Homo sapiens: one gene and its partners. The protein of the gene in region 3 interacts with the protein of the main gene of each other region in a pairwise test. Each region holds a gene or a part of one and is shown on either strand. Other genes may lie near its edges.

Region 1 (3,652 bases), on a different chromosome or scaffold from region 3:
GGCATCTAGAAGTCAGAGACCATGTTTGCTTAAATAACTCTCTATTGTACCCAACACAGTTCTGGGTACAAACAGGCATTTGATAAATGCAGACATTGATTACAGTGTTTGCTAGTTTCTAGAAGGGTGTGTGAGGACCAGATTTGCACCAAAGAAACCTTCGGCATGTTTTCCTAGTAAATGTCATTGGCTCCACTGAGCTGCATGCCCGATTCTGTTCTCTATCCATCTGGCTGCCAGCCTCTGCTGTGAGTCTCCAACTCCTAAGGAAACCTGGACCAAGCAGACTCCCTGTCCCCGCTGCCCCACGTGCTCAACAGCTCTTGTTAGGGGCTTAGCACGCTGTGGCTGGTGGCAGGGAATCCCATTGGTACAGTAAGCCTGTGCATAAGCTCTAGGTAGCATTTTCCAAGCTTATTAAAATTCTTACATATGTACAGCTTGACTTCTTTAAACCTGGCCTAATTTATTGGGCTTGAACATGTGGCTTAAAGTACTCGAATGGTGTTGCCTCAGGCCCTGCCTATGATTCAGTCCTCCAGCACCATTCTGACCTTGCGCTCAGGGTGACTTTCAGCAATGGTAGGGAAGCATACTGGATTGATTGTAACATTATTCACTGGGGCATTTAATTAAGTAGACTTTTTTTTTCCCATTCACCCAACTTTTAGGAAAAAGAGGCAGATGACAAGAAAATCAGCTGATGTCAGGGAATGTATTCAGAGAACCAACACTGAGATTATATCCGGGGGTCAGTTTTCCCACTAGGCTCCTATGACTTCTGCGTGTACCATGGCCTGTAATGGTAACTGGTGTCCTGACAGTTGTCAGTGCCCTCCAGCGAAACACAACTAGGAACACACCTACAGTCGAACAAGTTGAGCTTATTGCTTATTGCTGTGAGGGAGAGTGCACACCAAAGGGCACCGTGGGGTGAGCCCATATAGGATTTGGGCTGTGGTAGTGATTTGGGGACTTTACTCTGGATTAGATGCTGTCAGGAAATGGGCAACTCTGTCATTTGGTATTTTAATAAATCGTATCTATAGGGAGAGTAGATTAAAGCAGTGCCAAAGCTGAAACTGAAGAAGAAGCAATAGTCACTCATTAGCTGGGAGAGGAGGATGTTTGGTATTTTGTGGCTTGGACAATGTTCATGTTTTGTCTGTGTTCAGGTATTGCAGAGTGGTCTTGTTTTTGTCTTCATCCATCATGGTCACAGAGTGGCCTTGTCTGGTGTTGATGTTGATGTTCGAAAGGAGAGCACCAAGGACTGGTTGATAGTACCAGGCCAGCGCCCAGGTGTCAGGAGTTGGTTTTCTCTTGCTCACAACTCGTGAGTAGAGTAGTGACCCTCTGGCGCTGATGGGTCCTCATTCATCTTTCATTTAGGACAGAAAAGCCATTGTTTTTTATTGTAACAACAGCATAACATTAAAATAGGATGGTGTAAGTAAAAAAAATTTCCAATCGCAACTACTTTTATTTTTCTCTGTTCTCTTCTGGTCTTTCTCCATGGGTATGTTTGTTTGCCAAGTATGCCAGAGCATGCCAGTTATACATGTGGTTACATTTAAAAAAATTTTTTAAATTTTATCATGAAATATTTATTAATTCAACAAAGATTTATTAAGCATTTTCTGTGTGCTAGGTGCTACTCTAAGCTCATACAGCTCCCATCCCAGTGGGAAAATAAACAATAAACAGATGAATAGGAAATATAATTTCAGCTAGTGATGAGTACCCTGAAGAATAAAGTAGGGAATTGGAGTGGAGGGGGACAGAGGCACTCTTGGAGGTAGAGTGGTCTGGAAAGTCCTCTCTGGGGAGGGGATCTCTGAGGCCTGAATAATGTGAAGGAGCTCAGCACATGGTGATCCAAGGGAAGAGCTTTCCAGCTGGAGAACAGCAAGCACAGAGTTTCCAAAGCAGAATGACCTTGGCATGATTGAGCCAGAAGCAGAAGGCCAGTGTGGAGTGGAGCAGGCGAGGAGACGAGGGGAAGGGTCAGAGCATGGGGGCCTTCTTGGCGTGGTGAGGAGTTTGGATTTTATTCTGTGAAGGAAAGCTAATGGAGGATTTCAGGCAGAGAAGTGTCATCCTGTGGCTGTGTTCTAAAAAATCACCCTGGCTGTTCTGCTCAGAATAGGCGGTAGGAAGGTCAGAGTGGAAGCAGGCAGACTCTGTAGAACACTGTTGCAGATGTCTAGACCGGGGATGATGGGGGTCTTATGGAGGTATCAGTGGGGATGGAGAGAAATGTAGGGTTCCACATATTTTGAAAGTAGAATAATCAAGACTTGCTGAATGATTGGATGTGTGATAGGGGAGGGTCAAGGATGGCACCAAGGTTTTGGTTCAAGCTATAGTGTAAAGGGTAGTGCCACTGGAGCCATTTACTGAGCTGTGGAAGATGGGGTGCAAGGTGGGGGGCAGGGGTATGGAGGTGAGAATCCTGTTTTCACATGTCAGGTTTGAGGTACTTATTAGTCATCCAAATGGAGTTATTGGGTTAGGAGGTGGGTGTAAGAGGCTGGAGTTCAGGCTGAGACAGCAGTTTGTGAGTTGTCAGAGGGGATCACTGTGAGAGCATGGTCCAGTTAGGCAGGAGAGGACAGGATCAGATGGGCAGTGGAGGCACAGCGATGATATGTCCATTGTGGTTTAGATGCCAATAGGCCGTTACATTCATCCTGGGAAAAAGAGGGCCATTCTCTCCTGATTGCTTTTGTTTTTTAGTGAGATCATCAATTGAGAGCAAGTAGGGGTGGAAGGGAAGAGTGTTGGAGACCTGGGGAGATAAGAGAAGGAGTGGAATAGTCATTTTGGAGACTAAGATAGTGAAAAAACTTGAGAAACGTGGCTGGTTGCTAAGCAGTTCTCAGTGTCACTACAGATTTGGGGTCAAACATTTAAAGTGAACATTTTGTATGTTTTTTTTCCTGCTGTGTTCCGCTGCTGTGCACAAGCTGGAGTAGATGCAGAGTTGGGCTTAACAAGGACTGAACTTTTGCTAAATGAATGCAATGGAGGAACAGAGGGACAAGGGAAAAAAGGGAGGGACAGAAACGCTGGCCCTTGGAGTCTCGGCAGGGTAGGGAAGTACAGTTGTGATGGGGAGGTGATAGTGATGAGCTGAGAGTGTCATTTGACATCATCTATTTTTTTTTTTTTCAGATGGAGTTTCACTCTTGTCACCCAGTCTGGAGTACAATGGTGCGATCTTGGCTCACTGCAACCTCCACCTCCCAGATTCAAGTGATTCTTCTGCCTCAGCCTCCAGAGTAGCTGGGATTACAGGCGCCCGCCATCATGCCCAGCTAATTTTTTGTATTTATAGTAGAGATGGGGTTTTGCCATGTTGGCCAGGCTGGTCTTGAATTCCTGACCTCAGGTGATCTGCCCGCCTCGGCCTACCAAAGTGTTGGGATTACAGGCATGAGCCACTGCACCCAGTTGACATCATCTTTTTGAAGGGAAATTGAGCAATGCCTATCAACTTTTAAAACTCACATACCAGAGCCGGGCGCGGTGGCTCACATCTGTAATCCCAGCACTTTGGGAAGCTGAGGTAGGTGGATCACGAAGTCAGGAGTTCGAGACCAGCCTGACCAACCTGGTGAAACCCTGTCTCTACCAAAAATACAAAAAT
Region 2 (3,354 bases), on a different chromosome or scaffold from region 3:
CCATTCACTTTGCCTTTGGGCAATTTCCGCCAGAACCTGGGTGGAGGAGGGTGGGGTTCCGGTGTTGAAATGGCATCCTGGACAGACATAAACACCCCACCCACTCTGCCCACTGGCAGAGTTGCCTACACCAACTCCCATCTCTGGGGATGGCAGTAAAACAAGGGGATGGAGGCAAGGGCTAGGGGAGATACTCTTTCAAAAGGATCATTTGTAGTTCCTACTAATTTTGTGGTAAGTCGAAGAGAAGATTCCATATTAAATTGCTGTGATGGGCCATCCTTGTGGTGAGTGGTCTAAGGTCATGCAATTTGAGGTCATACAATCCTATCCTCTGTCCTTCTTTTTCTTTCTTTTCTTTTTTTTTTTTTTTTTTTTTTTTTCCGAAACAGAGTCTCACTCTGTCGCCCAGGCTGGAGTGCAGTGGTGCGATCTTAGCTCACTGCAACCTCCGCCTCCCGGGTTCAAGCAATTCTCCCTGCCTCAGCCTCCTGAGTAGCTGGGATTACAGGCGCCCACCACCAAGCCTGGCTATTACTTGTATTTTTAGTAGAGATGGGGGTTTCACCATGTTGGCCAGGCTGGTTTCGAACTCCTGACCTCAGGTGATCCACCTGCCTCAGCCTCCCAAAGTCCTAGGATTACAGGTGTGAGCCACTGCACCTGGCCGTTTTTTTTTTTTTTTTTTTTTTTTGAGACAGGGTCTTGCTCTGTCACCCAGGCTCTCGAGTGCGGTGGCACAATCATGGCTCACTGCAGCCGTGACCTTTCAGGTTCAAGTGATCCTCCCACCTCAGCCTCCTGAGTAGCTGGGACCACAGATGTGTGCCATTATGCCTAGCTAATTTCTGCATTTTTAGTGGAGATGGGTTTTCACCGTGTTTCTCAGGCTGATCTCAAACTCCTGGGCTCAAGCAATCCTTCCACCTTGGCCTCCCAAAGTGCTTCCCCTCTCCCATGTTTCCTTCATCCTAGCCTGCTTCCCTATACTGATATGGCACGGTATGTCTGTGTGCGTGCACATAGACACAATGTCTGACCGTAGAGATCAGGAAGACCTTGCCAAATCTACTTGGAATCTCTTGCTGACGGCAGGGAAAACAGATGCAAGGAAGGTGGGTGTCAGGGAATAGGGAGGTAGCATGAGGAGAGGGACTGACAGAAGAAGATAAAGACACGGGTGAGGGTTTGCTGAGAATTCTAAGCTATCCAAGCAGAAAGGGACCTCCAAGGTCAATTTGTCCAACTCCCTGGTTTTACAAATGAGGAAACAGAGGCCCAGAGAAGTGAGATGGCTTGCCCAACATCACACTGCTGCTTTGTGGCAGAGCTGCAACTAGAACCCAGGTCAAAAGAAAAGGGACTGGAGGGCAGTGTATATTCAAGGCTCTAAAGAGACATTGCCCAGAAGGAGAAAGAGAGACTGACACTCCACAGAAAGAACTGATGAATGTAGACTTCCAGTAGAGGTTTGGAGTATGAAGATACAGGGGCAGGAGGGGAAGGTGCCTAGAAGACATTATAGTCAGGTAGAGTCAGGTTCTGGACCTCATCCTGCTATTATTTATCAGCTTCAGTCTCAGTTTCTGATGTACCTTTAGAATCTTTGTGAAAACCAGTCTTTTTTTTTTTTTTTTTTTTGAGACATAGTCTAACTCTGTCAGCCAGGCTGGAGTGCAGTGGCGCGATCTCGGCTCTCTGCAGCCTCCACCTCCTGGGTTCAAGTGATTCTCCTGCCTCAGCTTCCCGAGTAGCTGGGACTACAGACATGTGCCACCCCACCACGCCCAGCTAATTTTTGTATTTTTAGTAGAGACGGGGTTTCCATGTTGGCCAGGCTGGTCTCGAACTCCTGACCTCAGGTGATCCACCTGCCTTGGCCTCCCAAAGTGCTGGGATTACAGGCCTGAGCCACCGCGCCCGATGAAAACCAATCTTATAAACTAAGCTTGCAATACCAGCACAGTTCTTAACAAGTGCTTACTAAGTCTTTACTAAGGTTATATTACCTCAGAAGAGGAAAGACTTCTGATTGTATGGGTTAAGGTATGGCCCAAATGACCCTGTGAGGACACAGGACAGAGGTCCAGTGTCTCCAGAGCCCATTCCTTCTGTGCCTCTGCTGCCTGCAACTGATAAACCTCTTATCTGGCCCAGGCAGGGGAGCCCAGGGCCAGGATAGGAGGAGAGGGCAGAGCTGCTATCAACCACCAGGCCTGGGCCATATCTTGGAGAGGAGGAGGGGCTGTCTGCTTGCCTCTTTCCACAACTTGTTCTTGGGGATCCTCAAGCATATACTGTCATCATCTTGGAAAGAAAAGGCTGAGAACGTAAAACTGAGGACAGAGGAGGAAAGCAGGGTGACCCCTGATGTTGCCCTAGAAAATGGAAAACAAAACACAGCAAAACAGAAAAACAGAAGATCTGACTCTGCCTTTAGCCAGGAAAACAGTTTGGGGGAGTAAAAAGTATTAGGGAAAAGAGTGGGCATTTTGCCTGGAAAAAAGGTAAAGACCTCCTGTGCTACCAAAGGAACTGACTGTGGCCATAGTTGGCGAGGTGGAGATCACAACACAGGAAAAGACTTTCCATCTTAAGGGATTGATGAATCCAGCATGAGTGAGGATGGGGAGGAGGCGGTCTCTCCTTCCCTCAGGGGAAGCTGGAGGGAGCCCCTCCAAGGAGGTAGTGCAAACTTGCTGACCCTAGCAGGTGTAGCTCTAACACCTCTTTTCCTTTGACACAGGTTTCTAGAGCCATCTGGGCTTTCCGGGAACCTGGACCAGACTCTGGCCCAGTAGGATGTCCCCGTGTCCTCCCCAGCAGAGCAGGAACAGGGTGATACAGCTGTCCACTTCAGAGCTAGGAGAGATGGAACTGACTTGGCAGGAGATCATGTCCATCACCGAGCTGCAGGTGAGTAAGGGGGGATAGGGCAGGGGAGGCCGTGTGTCGGAGAAGAGAGAAGCAGGGAGTTGGCCAGGACTGAGGCAGAGGGCAGGAGCAAGCAGGGCTCAGGGCTGGTAATGCTCCAGGCACTGGGAAAGGAAGGGAAAGATCCGGATGGAAGACACTGAGGAACGTTGAGGAGGAGGAGTGGAGGAGCAGTGGTGGGGAGGGAATGATCTGATTGGGAGTGTAGGCTCTCTCAGCAGCCACTTGACTCACATCTCTCTCTACCCCACCTCCTGCTCTCCCTCCCGTGCTCACCTTCTTCTCTTCTGACCTGCCTCTCTGATCCTGCCATCTTCTTCCCTCATTACCTCCGCCTGCCCTTGGCAACTGGGCCCGTTTACCCCAGGTAACAGAGCAGTAGTTCAGGGGCCTCAGGAAGGGGAGTCGGACTATGCCAGG
Region 3 (3,652 bases):
GGCCATTCCTTTCCCATCTAACCTCCCCTCCCAGGTTTCTCCTAATTTAGGCAAGTGTAACTCTCCTAGCATTGTTGAGAACATTGATTAAGGTAATGCATGTGAAGATTCTTTGTAAGCTCTAAAGCACTAAAGAAATGTCACTGATACTGTTTATCTGTGACCTTCACATTATAAAGATCACGCCCGAGAAGCCAGCAGAGGAAGGAAATGATTCGAAGGGAGTGCCAGAAGCATCTGGCCCACAGAACAATGGGAAACAGCTGCGCCCCTCAGGAAAACTAAATACCTCTGAGAAGGTTAACAAGACATCTGGTAAGAGAAAAGAATTTGGGAACAACCACTCTGGCTTTTCTCGCTAAGTTCAGGTGTGTGGACTGGGTGTGTGGCATGGACCCCAGACAAGCCTGGGTCCAGGCTGGGCTGAGGAGCTCGCCCAGCTCCAGATGAGATGTTACACATGACTTCCAGAGACACAGACTGGAGTTGTCATTCATATAAAAAAACCACGTGACTTGGGGCAAGTCTTCCAAATTTTCTTAGCTCCAGTTTCCTAGTTTATAAGTTGGAAATAAAGAATCTCAGTTCATAAATTGTTTGGAGGCATTAAATTAAGTCTAGAAGGCCTGATGACATGAAAGGTGCTGAAGCAATTCCATCTGTGATTACCTGGGATCATATCTTACTCAGCTCAATGCCTGTTACCCGATATAGGTGTACTTCAGAGATATTGCATGTTCAGTTCCAGACCACTGCGATAAAGTGAGTCACACACATTTTTTTCTTGGTTTGGCAGTGCATAAAAACATTATGTTTACAATATACTGAAGTCTACTAAGTTTGCACTAGCATTGTGTCTCAAAATGTATATATCTTAATTTTAAAATAATTCATTGTATAAAATGCTAATAATCTTCTGCGACTTCAGTGAGTCACACTCTTTTTGCTGGTGGAGGATCCTGCCTGGGTGTTGATGGCTGCTGGCTGATCAAGGTGGTGGTTGCTGAAGGGTGGAGTGGCTGTGGCAGTTTCATAAAAGAAGACAACAATGAAATTTGCCACATCGATTAGCTCTTCCGTTCATGAATGCTTTCTCTGTAGTATGTGATGCTTTTGGATAGCATTTTACCCACAGTAGAACTTCTTTCAAAGTTGAAGTCAATGCTCTCTAGCTATGAAAGTCCTAGATGGCATCTCCTTCCAATAGAAGGCTATTTTATCTACATTGAAAATCTGTTGTTTAGTGTAGCCACCTTCATCAGTGATCTTAGCTAGATCTTCCGGATAACTTGCTGCAGCTTCTCCATCAGGGTTTGCTGCTTCACCTTGCACTTTTATGTTATGGAGACGGCTTCTTTCCTTAAACCTCATGAACCAACCTCTGCTAGCTTCACACGTTTCTCCTGCAGCTTCTTCACCTCTCTCAGAATTCATGGACTTGAAGAGAGTTTGGGTCTTGCCCTGAATTAGACTTTGGCTTAAGGGAATGTTGTGGCTGGTTTCGTCTTCTATCCTGACCACTTTCTCATTTAAGCAGTAAGGCAGTTTTGCTTTCTTATTCTTGTGTTCACTGGAGTATTAGTATTATTATTTTCTTCAAGAACTTTTCCTTTGCATTATATACTATTACTTCCTTCAAGAACTTTTCCTTTGCATTCACAGCTTGGCTGTTTGGTGCAAGAGGCTTAGCTTTCAGCCTGTCTTGGCTTTCAGCATGCTTCCTCACTAAGCTTAGCCATTTCTAGCTTCTGATTTAAAGTGAGAGACATGCGACTCTTCCTTTCATTTCAACACTTAGCGGCCATTGTAGGGTTGTTAATCTTCCTAATTTCGGTGTTGATATGTCTCAGGAAATACAGATGCCCAAGAAAAGGAAGAGAGGCAGGGAAGAGCTCATCGGTGGAGCAGTCAGAACACACACAATATTTGTCGATTAAGTTTGTCAACTTCTATGAGTGCAGTTCCTGTTACCCCCAGAATAATTACATACAACAGGGTGATTATAGTCAATAATAACTTAATTGTGCAGTATGAAAACTAAAAGAGTGTAAATGGATTGATTGTAACCAAGGATAAATGTTTGAGGGGATAGATCCCTTATTTTCCATGATGTGATTTTTACGCATTTGCATGCCTGTATCAAAACGTCTCATGTATCCCATAAGTATATACACCTACTGTGTACCCACAAAAATAAAAAACAGAAATTATTTTAAAAGACTAAAAAACAATAAAAACAATTGCAGTAATAATATCAAAGCTCACTGATCACAAATCACCATAACAGATATAATAATAATGGAAAAGTGTAAAATTGGTGAGAATTTCCAAAAAAAAAATTGCAACATCTGTGAAGCAGTATGAAAATGAGGTGCAATAAAACAAGGTACGCCTGTGTGGCCTTAATAAATACGTGCTGAATGAAAGGAGGTAAGGGTGAATGTTCCCGTAAGTGAAGAGGTTGGGAATCTAAACCTGACAACGGAAGGAGCCAGAAGCTAAAACTTTAATTTGCATTTGGCCTGTATTGGTGTGGGTCTAAGGTCTCAGCCTCTCTAAGCCAGAGAATGTGAAAAACTGGATAAAGAAGACCCATGGGCACTTGGTGGTGGGGAGGCATCTCCTTTTTTGGAGAAAACAGAGCCTAACACTCTCCAATCAACCCAACCCTCTCCAATCTACCCAACCCTCATCTTCCAACTCTTCTCCATCATAGGACCCAAAAGGGGGAAACATGCCTGGACCCACAGAGTGCGTGAGAGAAAGCAACTGGTGATTTATGAAGAGATCAGCGACCCTCAGGAAGATGACGAGTAACTCCGTAAGTGAACCTTTGGCTCATCTCCCACATCCTTGCAGATGTGCTATTCTGTTATGGTACTGGTATCCCATCTTATCAGTTGTTCCCCAAATCATTCCCTTCTCATAATTTTCTAGGGTACAGCATTGAGGCTGAATGATGAAATTTCCCATGTTTTTTTTTGTGGGTGGGGGAGTCTCCTTTTGTTCCCCCAGGCTGGAGTGCAGTGGCATGATCTCGGCTCACTGCAAGCTCCGCCTCCCGTGTTCACGCCATTCTCCTGCCTCAGCCTCCCCAGTAGCTGGGGCTACAAGCACCCGCCACCACGACCGGGTAATTTTTTTTCTTGTATTTTTAGTAGAGACAGGGTTTCGCCATGTCAGCCAGAATGGTCTCAATCTCCTGACCTCGTGATCCATCTGCCTCCGCCTCCCAAAGTGTTGTGACTACAGGCGTGAGCCTCTGCGCCTGCCTAACCATGCTCTTTCTACTCCCTGCCCTCTATATCCAGGGATCCTCCCTACCCAGGATGCTGTGGGTTCCCAAACCCCAGGTCAGCACTGATATGCGGGCCACACCTTCCTCTAGCCTAGGAATTGATAACCCAGGCGAGGAAGTCACTGTGGTATGAGCAGATGGTTCACTTCAAGGAACCATGGAAGGCGTGTACAGGTCCTGAGGTAGGGCAGAATCGGAGTGGGCAGGGTCTGCAGGTCAGGAGGAGTTGAGATTGAGTTGTCATGTGGTGGGAACTCACTGCCACTTACTTTCCTTCTCGCTTCTTGCCTCAGCCTCGGGGATATGACACATGCCCATGATGAGAAGCAGAACGTGGTGACCTTTCACGAACAT

The links.
Region 1: the proteins of SSX5 (region 3) and PCBD2 interact in a two-hybrid assay, tested with the Homo sapiens proteins (one large-scale study listed by BioGRID and IntAct).
Region 2: the proteins of SSX5 (region 3) and NFE2 interact in a two-hybrid assay, tested with the Homo sapiens proteins (one large-scale study listed by BioGRID and IntAct).

Annotation. Positions count from the first base shown.
Region 1 is NC_000005.10:134,911,515-134,915,166, forward strand, and holds part of PCBD2 (pterin-4-alpha-carbinolamine dehydratase 2), read left to right. Parts: intron 1-3,652.
Region 2 is NC_000012.12:54,294,697-54,298,050, reverse strand, and holds part of NFE2 (transcription factor NF-E2 45 kDa subunit), read left to right. Parts: intron 1-102; exon of another isoform or gene 103-287; intron 288-2,292; exon of another isoform or gene 2,293-2,507; intron 2,508-2,746; 5' UTR 2,747-2,802; coding exon 2,803-2,916; intron 2,917-3,197; exon of another isoform or gene 3,198-3,301; intron 3,302-3,354. UniProt on the Homo sapiens protein: Component of the NF-E2 complex essential for regulating erythroid and megakaryocytic maturation and differentiation. Binds to the hypersensitive site 2 (HS2) of the beta-globin control region (LCR).
Region 3 is NC_000023.11:48,186,796-48,190,447, reverse strand, and holds part of SSX5 (protein SSX5), read left to right. Parts: intron 1-179; coding exon 180-315; intron 316-2,716; coding exon 2,717-2,817; 3' UTR 2,818-2,821; intron 2,822-3,311; exon of another isoform or gene 3,312-3,368; intron 3,369-3,591; 3' UTR 3,592-3,652. UniProt on the Homo sapiens protein: Could act as a modulator of transcription.